3 linked regions of the Homo sapiens genome follow. The protein of the gene in region 3 interacts with the protein of the main gene of each other region in a biochemical or structural test. Each region holds a gene or a part of one and is shown on either strand. Other genes may lie near its edges. The genes, in order: DAB2, MAPK8IP2 and LRP8.

The links.
Region 1: the proteins of LRP8 (region 3) and DAB2 form a complex in vitro, tested with the Homo sapiens proteins (one study listed by BioGRID).
Region 2: the proteins of LRP8 (region 3) and MAPK8IP2 form a complex in vitro, tested with the Homo sapiens proteins (one study listed by BioGRID).

What each region holds. Positions count from the first base shown.
Region 1 is NC_000005.10:39,414,977-39,418,625, reverse strand, and holds part of DAB2 (disabled homolog 2), read left to right. Parts: intron 1-3,649. UniProt on the Homo sapiens protein: Adapter protein that functions as a clathrin-associated sorting protein (CLASP) required for clathrin-mediated endocytosis of selected cargo proteins.
Region 2 is NC_000022.11:50,603,654-50,607,302, reverse strand, and holds part of MAPK8IP2 (C-Jun-amino-terminal kinase-interacting protein 2), read right to left. Parts: coding exon 3,584-3,649; intron 3,466-3,583; coding exon of another isoform or gene 3,463-3,465; coding exon 2,239-3,462; intron 1,936-2,238; coding exon 1,860-1,935; intron 1,742-1,859; coding exon 1,569-1,741; intron 1,479-1,568; coding exon 1,369-1,478; intron 646-1,368; coding exon 538-645; intron 383-537; coding exon 312-382; intron 1-311. UniProt on the Homo sapiens protein: The JNK-interacting protein (JIP) group of scaffold proteins selectively mediates JNK signaling by aggregating specific components of the MAPK cascade to form a functional JNK signaling module.
Region 3 is NC_000001.11:53,254,974-53,258,622, forward strand, and holds part of LRP8 (low-density lipoprotein receptor-related protein 8 isoform 1 precursor), read right to left. Parts: intron 3,499-3,649; coding exon 3,346-3,498; intron 2,492-3,345; coding exon 2,267-2,491; intron 1,509-2,266; exon of another isoform or gene 1,155-1,508; intron 283-1,154; exon of another isoform or gene 213-282; coding exon 144-212; exon of another isoform or gene 124-143; intron 1-123. UniProt on the Homo sapiens protein: Cell surface receptor for Reelin (RELN) and apolipoprotein E (apoE)-containing ligands. LRP8 participates in transmitting the extracellular Reelin signal to intracellular signaling processes, by binding to DAB1 on its cytoplasmic tail.

The sequences.
Region 1 (3,649 bases), on a different chromosome or scaffold from region 3:
AAATACTAACTTTAAGGTACCACTTAAACCTCATCTGAGCAGGGCAGTTAAGTCCTCTTAAGGTCTATAGTTAATCCATACCCAAAGAACTGGAAAGTGAATAACTTCATCCCTAATTGTGTCCATATTGAACACAGCTGCCCTCTCGGTTCTAAATATTGCATCCAAATGATCTCACTTATTTTTTTATATTTTAAGTGTCCTATTAGGGGGCCAAGACCTGGTCTAGTTTTCTGTAATATGTAATACAGATGCTAACGTGCTTTTTGTTACCATTTAGTGCAACAGAAATAAACCAAATGTGTTTGAACATATGTCAGAGGGCTGACATAATCATATGAAGAATGCTATACCAGTTTGGCTTTGGGACGAAATGTGAATCTACTAGGGCAACATACAACTGCCCTCTGAGTCAGAAGATCAGAAGTTGCTGTGGCTACACATAGTAGGTGCTCAAATATCCATCCTTTAAAGGGAAGGGTCAGCTGTGCTTTAGTTATATCAGCATTAGGTTTTGTTGTTGTTGTTACTTGATTTTGTTTTGTGTTGCTCCCTGCCCCCTTTACCTCTAAAATTAAGCGACTTAAATGCAATTCATTTTTGAAGTAGAAAAAACAAGTATGTAGCTGATAGAACAGGCTTTTCCATCAATTGTTGGTTGCTAGTAAGGAGGGTCAATATTGATTTCTGCCTGGGCTAAGGTTCAACTATAGCTGAGGCTTTTCAGAGAGCATACATGTACTAGAATTGAAATGATAGACAGTTATATTTAATGTCCACGCTGTCTTCTAAAGGATAGCTTGATGCAGAAATGCTTGCTTAACTGCCTGAAAACCTGTTCTTTGTGATTTCTGATTTGTCTAACTGGTCTGAAGTTCCCAATGACTAAAAGTTGATAGTAATTGAAAGTTGGGTGCAAATATTTACCTTAGAGGGACACATATATGACAAGAGCTGCCTATAAGATAGTTAGAGAAAATAGTAACTACTCAACTAACATATGATTTTATTGTAGTTAAGTGGTACAGAGTGTTGTGTGGATCCAGAGGGAGAAAAAGGCCATTGGTGTTAATGGATTTGGCTTTTAAAGGAACAATGGAAGTCAAATAAGCAAAGGTAAGAAGAGAAAATGCATTTTAGGCAGCAGCGCATATGCAAATCATGCAGTTGGATGAACTTAGGATATGCCTAAAGAACTCTGACTGGTCAGTTTGGCCAAGAAACAGTACAGGTGGCATAGGGCTGAGAAGTGTCTGAGTTTGAAAAGTAGGGATGAATTATACTGAGCCATGGATGTCAGGATAAGAATTTTGATTTTTTTTTTTTATTTTTATACTTTAGATTCTGGGGTACATGTGGAGAACATGCAGTTTTGTTACATAGGTATACATGTGCCATGGTGGTTTGCTGCATCCATCAACCCATCACCTACATTAGGTATTTCTCCTAATGCTATCCCTCCCCTTACCCCCCAACCAGGCGCCGGTGTGTGATGTTCCCCTCCCTGTGTTGATGTGTTCTCATTATTCAACTCCCACTTACAAATGAGAATATGCGGTGTTTGCCAAGCAGATCCGTCATTAAAGCAGGAAAACCAAATGCTGATTGGGATAACTTAACCTGGCTCTATTGGCAGAATGTGTTTGAGTGGAGATTGCTTAGTAGTTGAAGAAAAGCCTATATTTCTTCAAAAATCATCAAAGTAGAGAAAAGGGTTGCTTAACCTAAGATTAAGGTGCAAAAAGAAATATTTATTACCCCTAATGTTTTAAGCGCACTGCTCATTAACAGACTGTGTCGAGCCTAGAAAAGTAGGGCAAATAATTTTCGGATCCCAAAAGCTTTATTGAATTGAGAGAAGAGCTCTACATGAATCAGAGGGCAATGATAGGTCATGGCAAATGTGAGGAAATGGCTGGTAAGAGGCCGGTAAAGACTTCCCTGAGACCACACATCTTGAGTGGCCTTGGAATGAAGGTTTTCACGAAATTCAAGAAGGTGAAGGCAGTACATATTACAGGCTAGCAGACCACATAAGAAGGTCTGGTGTGTCTATGTGTCTGTTTAGGGGAAACAGAAGACAACGGCCTCTTCAGAGAGCAGGTGGCCATGTATATGTATAGTCCACAGCCTGATTAGAAGGGCTTTGAATCTCAGCTTGAATGTGAATGGAGGAATTGAACACCGATACCTGATTAATTCAAAATCAGGAAAGCTAGGAGGCCAGTAAACACTCCTACAAAAATTTAGCCATAAAGGGAGATCAGTTACAACCAGAGTCTCTTACACCTTAGATTCTCACTGAAGCCCTTTGGAGAAAATGGAAGAAAGAGCTCATCCCATAAAGAGTTGTTTGTTTGTTTGTTTTTCACTTCAAGTGTTTTAAATATATTAAGGAGTACTTATGCTATGTGTGTAGAAAAGATCAACAAACACCATAATATAAGTCCGCTAATCATGAGGGACATGTATGATACAACGTGGTATAGCTTTTTAGGGAGGAGGAACTCAGGGTGGCGGTGAGGCAAGGTTGAGGAAAAATGCTGGAACTAAGTAAAAAAAAAAATATGATGGGGAGGGAGGAGAGGTGTGAAAATAAAGGGTAATTATGAAAAGTAGACTTTCAGAGGTTTGACTCATTCATTAAACATGAACAGTTTAGGATAAAATCTTAGCTTCATTCTAAGCTGCAGACAGTACTGTTGTGGATCTTTTAGGTATATCTGCATACGAAGTACATTCTGTAATGCTGTTCCCACTTAGTGTATAGTGATGCAAATGTTCAGTTTTCTGCACAAGAACTCTTTCATAGAAACAGTGGGCACAACCATGTTCTGTGTTAGGATCTGGACTCTTACACTTCATGCGGCCAACATTTGTGGAGGGCTCACTACTTGTATTGATCATGAAGTCCATTTCCTTGAAGACTGACATTGACCAAGTGCTGCCTGGTAGCCCCTTGATAATGCTCTTGTGACTTGGTAGTGCTCTTTAAATAACTAAAGCAAGCTGTAGGGACCCTTGGTTACATTTTCATAAGATTGTTTCACTGAAATCTGAGGTTCAATGTTTGGCCTGATCTGAAAGTGACACGTTGTATTCTTAGAAAATCTGGTAATTAAAAGTGCCACAGAACATGTCTGGTTCTAGAATACAGAAGTTCCCTGAATTGCTTGTACTTCTTAAGTGAATGCCAGACTGAATGCCAAATGAGCATAGTGTTTCCTTCTGGTGTTTATGAAGATAGTGTTGATTCAGAACTTTGGATCTTATGATAACTCTGAAGGAAACATCACTGAAATTCTTCAATACCCTCAGGTATAACAGAATTGCTTCCTTCTGTTACTGCCATACAGATGGTCCTTCAGATTGTAACGTGGTTATAGGAGACTCATAAATATTAAATGTAAATATCCCCTCAATTTGTGTCATAATTTAAAAATTGTTGAAGAGGGTTATTAACCCTTCAGACAACATTTGCATCTTTCCATAATTGATATCAATACAGCAATTTATATATAATTCCTTGATGTAATACTACTTTTTCTTCCTTTTATGAAGTATTATTAACAGCAATGAAGCTTTCTACCCTAATCAGAAACAATTCCTCCAAAACACATAGCATCAGTTATAACTGTGACCTGCTTGT
Region 2 (3,649 bases), on a different chromosome or scaffold from region 3:
TGTTTCCAGGCTGGCCATCCTGAGCCCCAGGCCCACTCAGGCGTCCTCTGCACCCACACAGGCTTCTCACATCCTTCGCCCGTGTGCCTCTCTCCACCCAGACTGGATGCAAGCCTGTCTGACCCACGCCTCCTGAGTCCAGCTCAGAGCAGGCGCCACTGCAGGCTCAGCTCACAGAGCTAAGTGGGTGCAGGTGGAGCTCTCAGGGCTGGGCACGGGCAGCCCTCAGGGTCTGTGGGGACTCAGGGGGCGGTTGGACTCTCAGGGTTTGTGGGGGCGGTTGGGGGACTCGGGGACGGTCAGACTCTCACCAGCTGTTGCGGGGATGGCAGCCGCAGAAGGAGATGTTCTTCATCTGGAAGAAATGGCTGCAGCGCTGGAACTAGAGCAGAGGTGGGCAGAAGTCCCTGTGTCAAAGGAGGCCTGGCGCCACCCCTGCCTCCCACCTACTGGACACCCCTGCCAGCCTGGCCCCGTCGGACTCCGTGGCCTAACCCTATCCCCCAGTCCCCGGTCCCCAGTCCCCCACACTCCCACCTCGGGCCCTCCTCCGCTCAGACTCAGCTTGACCCCCCGAAGAGAGATCTCGAGGTCACAGGAGGCAGGAGGGCGCAGGTGGACGGTCAGTTTCCGGGCAGTGGCAATCTACAGAAGAAGTTGGGGGAGAAGAGGGTCTTGAGGAGCCCACAAGGGCCTTTCTTTCCCCTTGGTGGGACTACGCCTCTGCTCCTTTTAGCTTATGTTTGAGGACACACATGCTGAGGACCCTGAGATGCAATTCTGGAAGACATAAGGGGTGTGGCCTTGGCCACTCCTCAGGCTCAGGAGGAGCAATCGCCTCTCTGCAGTCAGCTTGCTTCATCTTCCTTCTGCTCCTCCAGGCAGGCTGCTGCGCTTGGCTCAGGAGCCAGGAACAGAGACCTCACCCGCCCTGGGCTGCTCTGCCCTGCTCCCTACTGCCCCCCAGCCTCAGCCTCAGTACTGGTGCCTGGGCAGGTGCTCACTAAACGTCCACTGAGTGAGTGGATGAGTAGAGGGCTCCCAGGGAAGGGGCTGTGAGGGCTGGTCTTGATTCCAGATGGGAAGAGGAAGGGCTGATGGCAGTCGGGGCCACCTGGAAGATCTGTGGCCCAGAGACCCAGAGGTGATGAGGGACAGCTGCTGTGCTCTGCCCTAGACTCACCTGCTCAGGCCTCTGAACCAGGGCCTGGGGTACCCACCCCGAGCTCCCCCTGCAGCATCCCCCAGACCCTCCCTGGAGGAAATCAGACCTCAGACCTTGGAGCCTCAAGCCCTGTGCCAGCCTGCAGTGCTGGTGTGGCCGCCAAGCGGACCCTCAGCCTGCACTTGCCCGGCCTCCACACTGACCTTCTGCATGGCTGCACACAGGATGCCGTTGCCCTGGTGGCAGGGCACCTCCACGGAGCCCAGGAACTGCACGTCAAAGCGCTCCACCCAGCAGGGGCTCCGCTTACTCCCTGGGGAGCGGGGCACAGAGGGCCCAGGTCAGGCAGGGGCACAGGGGAGGATCTGGGGTGAAAAGCCTCCCCTCGGGGTTGGGACCTCACCCAGCAGGTCCTTGGCAGGGCCGGGCACCGCATGGGCGTAGAAGGCAGGAAACACACCGCGCTCCCCCGTGCGCATGTTGAAGCCACGGAACCAGAAGTCGTCCTCCTCGGCCTCCACCAACACAGGGTCATCCACATCCAGCTCCAGCTCGTCTGGATGCCGCGGGATGAACCTGCCGTTGGGGGAGAGGTCACTGGGGAGGGGGGCGGGATTGACGGTCGTGTCCACTGGCGTTCCGTGATGGCAGGGACTGAGGCTGGGGCCACCGCCAGCAAGGAGGGAGGCCGTACCTGAACACAGCCCGGTGAGTCTGCTCTCGCTCCTCGCCGTTGACCAGACAGGAGAAAAGGCCAAAGGACTCGGTGCCTGGGAGACCCGGCAGGACAGAGGCGGGGGAGACAGGGAGACAGAGTCAGAGTAGTGCTTAGAGGCCTGGCCTTGGGCAGAGGCCAAGTCCCCTCCACAGTCCGGTGTAGGTGTCCTACGAGCGGGAAGGAGCTGAGGCAGAGCAGGCCACCTCATGCCATGTCCTGGGTGGGAGAGGGCACCCAGCCCTGACCACAGCCAGACCCTCAGGTGGCCCTGGGCACTGTGGGGGACCCTGGGACTGGGGCCAGGGAGTCTGCACCTTCCTCTGGGCCACCCCCCTTTTCCCCACCTCTCACTCACTGGAGGACCGAGATGTGCTGTTGACGAAGACATTGAGGAACTTCTTGGAGAAAGTGAGGTCAGGGCTGTCCGGCGAGGTGTCCCCCGAGACCTGACCGCCGCCTAGCAGCGCCGCGCCCGCCTCCTCCTCGCTGGCCTCCCCGCCGCTGTCCTCTTCGCTGTCGTGGCCCAGCCCAGCACAGCGCCGCAGGCTCACCAGCTCCAGCTGCGTGTGCTCATCCACCACCAGCGTGTACTTGACCGCGTCGTACACCAGCGACGCGTCCCGCGGCGCCGAGGGGCCCGTGCCCCTGCCCCCGGGGGACCCCGCACTGTCCTCGGCATCCTCCTCTTCCTCGTCGTCCTCTTCGTCCTCCTCCTCGGAGCAGGCGGCGGAGCAGGCTCGTCCCGGGCGGGCGGCGCGGCCGGGCGCGGCCCACAGCGGCGTGATGGTGTCACGCGTGGGGTTGCTGAGGAATAGGCAGGGCCCGGGCTGCGCGGGGCCGGGTCGAGGCGCGGCGGGCGCGGGCGGCGGCGGCGCGCACAGCGTCTCCATGTCCACCAGCTCCACGCCGCCGGGCCCCGCGGCCGCCTCGGGGTCCTGGGAGTCCTGGGCGGCCCCGCCGGCCGGCGACACGGGCTCCCCGGGCGGGCGCGGCGCAGGAGACAGGCACTGGCCGGGGCAGCGGATGGGCGAGGAGCCCTCGGAGATCATGCGGCTCACCAGGTTGCTGAGCAGCCAGGGCGAGTCCGCGTCCTCGCTGAGGTCCGGCTCCGACTCCGACCCCGACTCGTACTCGCTGTTGGTGTCGTCGGGGCCCACGGGCAGGAAGGCGGGGCGGCGCGGGGGTTCGCGCGGGGGCTCCGGCTCCGAGGCGGGCGACGAGGCCTCCTCGATGGAGTTGGTGAGGTGCGAGGAGCGGCCGCTGCTGCTGCTTCCGCCATCGCTGCTCAGCTCCAGCTCCGTCTCCGAGATGGACGAGATCATGCGCCCCAGGCGCGCGCCGCCCGCGTCCTCCGAGTCGGAGCCGGGCGAGGACAGCTCCTGGCTGCTGCGACGTCCCCCGCGGCCGCCGCTCGAGCGGCTTCTCAGGTCAGCCTCGATGCCGGGATCTGAGGAGGGCGAAGTCCCCCCTGGCGCAGGGGGTTCCGCAGGCCGGTTCCCTTCGCAGTCGCAACCCGGGCGCACTGGCGACTGCGCCCCGCCGGGCCCGGTGTCCGTGGCAGGGAGGGGGCCCGGGAGCTCTGCTGGGCAGGGAGGTGGGGTCACCCTCTCTGCACCACCCAGGCCTCTTCCAGCAGCCAGTCCATCCTCCCTGCCCTCCTCCCCCGCTTCCCCGCGCCCCGCGGGCCCACCACCCCTCACCTCTGAGGGCCTCCGGGGCGGGTGAGCATAGCGCTGTCTCCTGCCAGGAGGCCGGACGCACCAGGT
Region 3 (3,649 bases):
AATCAGGACTGGGAGGTGGGCAGGAAGGCTGCAAGGGCAGAACAAGTCAATAGGGCAGGCCAAGTTCTCTACCCTGCTAGCGCTCTTCCCTAGGCCTAAGCAGGGTCTCTCTTTTCTCTTCAGTGACTGGGGGCCACACTCACCTATGGGCACGATGATCCCGATAACAGCGGCAGTGACTGTTGAGCCCATCTTACTGTCTTCATTTGCATCTGCAAAACACAAACATTTGCAGAATGATGCTCTATCACTGTGTGTCCAAGCCCCTACTGGCCTCAAGTGGTAAGAACTACCCAACTGCTGCTCATCCTCATTCTAAAATGATGATCCTGGCTGTTGCCTAATAATTCAGTCTTTCCAGATCCTATCACAACTCCTGTGAGGCAAGCAGGACAGAGGTTATCTCCATTTTACAGGCAAGGAAACTGAGTCTTAACTGAGGGGTTTCAGAAAAGTGGCAGAGCTGGGACTTGAACCCAGGACTCATGTCCCAAGTCCCATACCCTTTCCATAGCATCATGGTAGTAGGAAGCTGGGGGCTGTGCATGGCAAAGTGAGCACTTAGGTCTTTATGTTGCTGATGGACTAGGTCATTTGCCTTTTTCCATCAGTATCTGTTGCTTTGCCAGTATTGTTTTTTGTGAACTGTCTGTCCATCTGCATTATCAGATTATTTTTCATAAGTAATTGAAATGGGACATAGTATAGTGTAGAGGAATCAAAAGCGCAGACTTCTGTGTCAGACTTCTGGGTTCAAGTCCCAGCTCTACTACTCACTACCCATGTGACCTTGGGCAAATTATTATATATTATAAATACAGCACATGGTATTATACTTTTATATCTTTAAAATGGTGATATTACCTACCTCCTAGGGATATGGTAAGGATTAAATGAAATAATTTATCTAAAATGAATATAAAATGCTTGGCACAACTTTGCCTAGTTCTAAGAGGGTGGAGAGTGGGATGGGGTTGTTGAATAGGGTCTAAATTTTAAAAAGATATGTAAAAGCACATTTTAAACTGAAAAGTGCTTGGAAAATTTACTGTCTTTTTGAAAAACTATGCCATGCCATCTTTCTCACTCTTATAACCATCTTCATTGTAACATTTGTGAAGCACTTTATAGTTCAGAAAGCATTTTTCCCTTAGATCCTCCTGACAGCTCCCTGTGGTGTGAAAAGGAGCTATCATCTACACTTGCTGCAGGTGAGATGACTGTCCCGGCAATGGCCCAAGGCCCATCCTCTCTCAATGTGACTGTTTATCCATGTTACTCCAAGAGAATCTAACAGTTAAGGGGAGAAAAAGCTGCACTGCTTGCTTCCAGAGCTAACTGTGTCCTCCCTGCTGTCCTCCCTGCTCTGGGCCACAGCGAACACTGGACAGTGATATTAAAACCTAGAGCATGAGGAAGCCAGTGAGGAGAAGCTGGTGAGAGGCTCTGCCCTCAGATGAGAGGAACTGGAATTCACACATGCTCCATCTGCCTCTGCAAACTTCGGAGTAAGTGCTCCACTCCAAAAAGCCAGCTTCTGCTGGCAAATAGGACCAGTTAGGAAGATGTTGCCAAGCAGCTTGGTTTCTGGGCTGTCCATGTAGGGGAAAAAATTAAAAAGATAGTTTATCCTTTTAAATGAACTCCCTCTGGCAGGTAACTCAATTAAAAAGGTATTTGCTGATTAATGAGATAGAACATTTCTAGCAGTGACAATTACTGCTCCCAATGATTTAATAAGTGGTGAACTTAATTATTTTCATCCCAGGGTTGGAAAGAGGTATAAGGAGACCATGGTTGTAGATATTACTATCTGGGGACCTGCTGTGAACTGAGATCAGAGCTTTCCAAACACAAGGGACACCTCCTCATATACACATCAGAACTTTGTGAAACATAGACACACACACCCTCGCAGAGTCAGCAACGGCTGTGTGCGTGAGCACCTCCAGTTATACCGGTTACACCTTTGTCTATCATGGCAATCTTGTGAAGCAGGTTGTGGAAGGGTGGTTATTTCCACTTTGTAAGAGAAGCAACTGAGGCTCACAGGGTCTCAGCTTCCTACAAGACCCTCTGTAAGGTAGGGGCACCTATGAGTCCTAAATCGCAGGCTGGTACTCTACCTCCCTCTCAGATATGCAGTAACCTCCTCAAAGATATGCAGTATTCAGCTCTGGTAGGTTCTGTCTTATCACATACCCCCTTCCTGGCTTCCCTAGGAGCCCTCCCATGTCATGAAAGAATGCAGAACTCATTTCCTTACAGTGCTGGGAGTGGTTGCTGGTTGCAGGGCTTAGGGTAGACGGGCTGATGCTGGGAGCCCTGGGGACACTAACTGAGCTTGGGACTGCAGCTGTCAGGCTTGGTGTCTCTGTGCTGTGGTTCTGGTAGGTGGATCTGTGGACGGTGGTCCCGGGGGCTCTTGTGGTGGCAGGTACTGTCCTCGTCATGGTAGAAGCTAACGTCGTAGTTGAGGTAGATTGAGGTGCTGGAGGGGAAATACCATGGAGGTCACTTGGACAGATAATTTTGTTGCCTAAGGTATTGCCTCTGAGATATACTTAGGAACTTATCTTCATGGCGTAGCTCAAATGCCACTTCTGTGAAGCCTTTCCTAATCTCCCCAGTGGGCTATGATCTTTTCTTTAGCTGAATGCTAAGCACTTCACTTTGATTCAATAAAGATGAGTCATTAAAACATTGCTGTGGAATTAGTTGTAAGATCAGCAATAAAAAGACTGTAGGGAGGGGAAATCAGATAAATCTAGAAGGATTTTACACTCATATATTGTTATACCAATAGATTGAAATTCTTATTCCACTTTAAACAATTGAACCTGTAAATCATTAATAATGCAGTAGACTTAGGCTCAAATGAAAGGCCTTGGCTATACATCAAGATTAGGACATGAATCTGTGTATGCGGTTGAAGTATTAACTATTAGTCCCAATTATATTGCAAAAGGGCTGCTGTGTAGTGTTTGTTAAGTTCTAGGTGAGAAACAGGCAAATATATAGTTATCTGCATGTACCTGAAGCCACGGCGATTAAGGGTTCTTAACTTGAGGTTTTTAAAGCGTTCCAGAAACTCCCTGAAACTGAATTTAAAATGTTTTATGTATATGTGCATTTTTTCCTTGGGAGTGAGAAAAAGCTTTGGAAGGATCCTGGGGGCATGAGCATTCAAGGAAGGTAAAAAAGAGAAACCCCCAAAAGGCAACAAGTAACCAGGGAAGATGGAAGAAAACCAGCAGCATACTGTGTCCCAGAAGCCAAGGGAAGATTTCAGCAGGGTAGGGTCTGACACTGCCAGGGGCCATCCCTCCTGGAAGGTCTGCTTACCTCGGTAGCACCTCTTCATGTCTGGACCCAGCCACATTGTGTCAGGACAGGCACATGTGTACTTGGGAGAGTGGCTGGAGATCTGAGGAGCAGGAAGGCACAGGTATTCACAGCCTCCATTAGGCTGGACACTCAGCTCACAGGCATCTGGAGCTAATGGCAGAGAGGGAGACAGCTGGGGCACAGACAGGACATGCCAGGTCTTCCTGCCTCCTGAGGATGAGGCTTCTCCCACCTGGCTTGCTCAAAAAGCTTGCCCTATACTTTTTTTTTCACATTTTTTTTCTTTTTCTTTCTTTTTTTA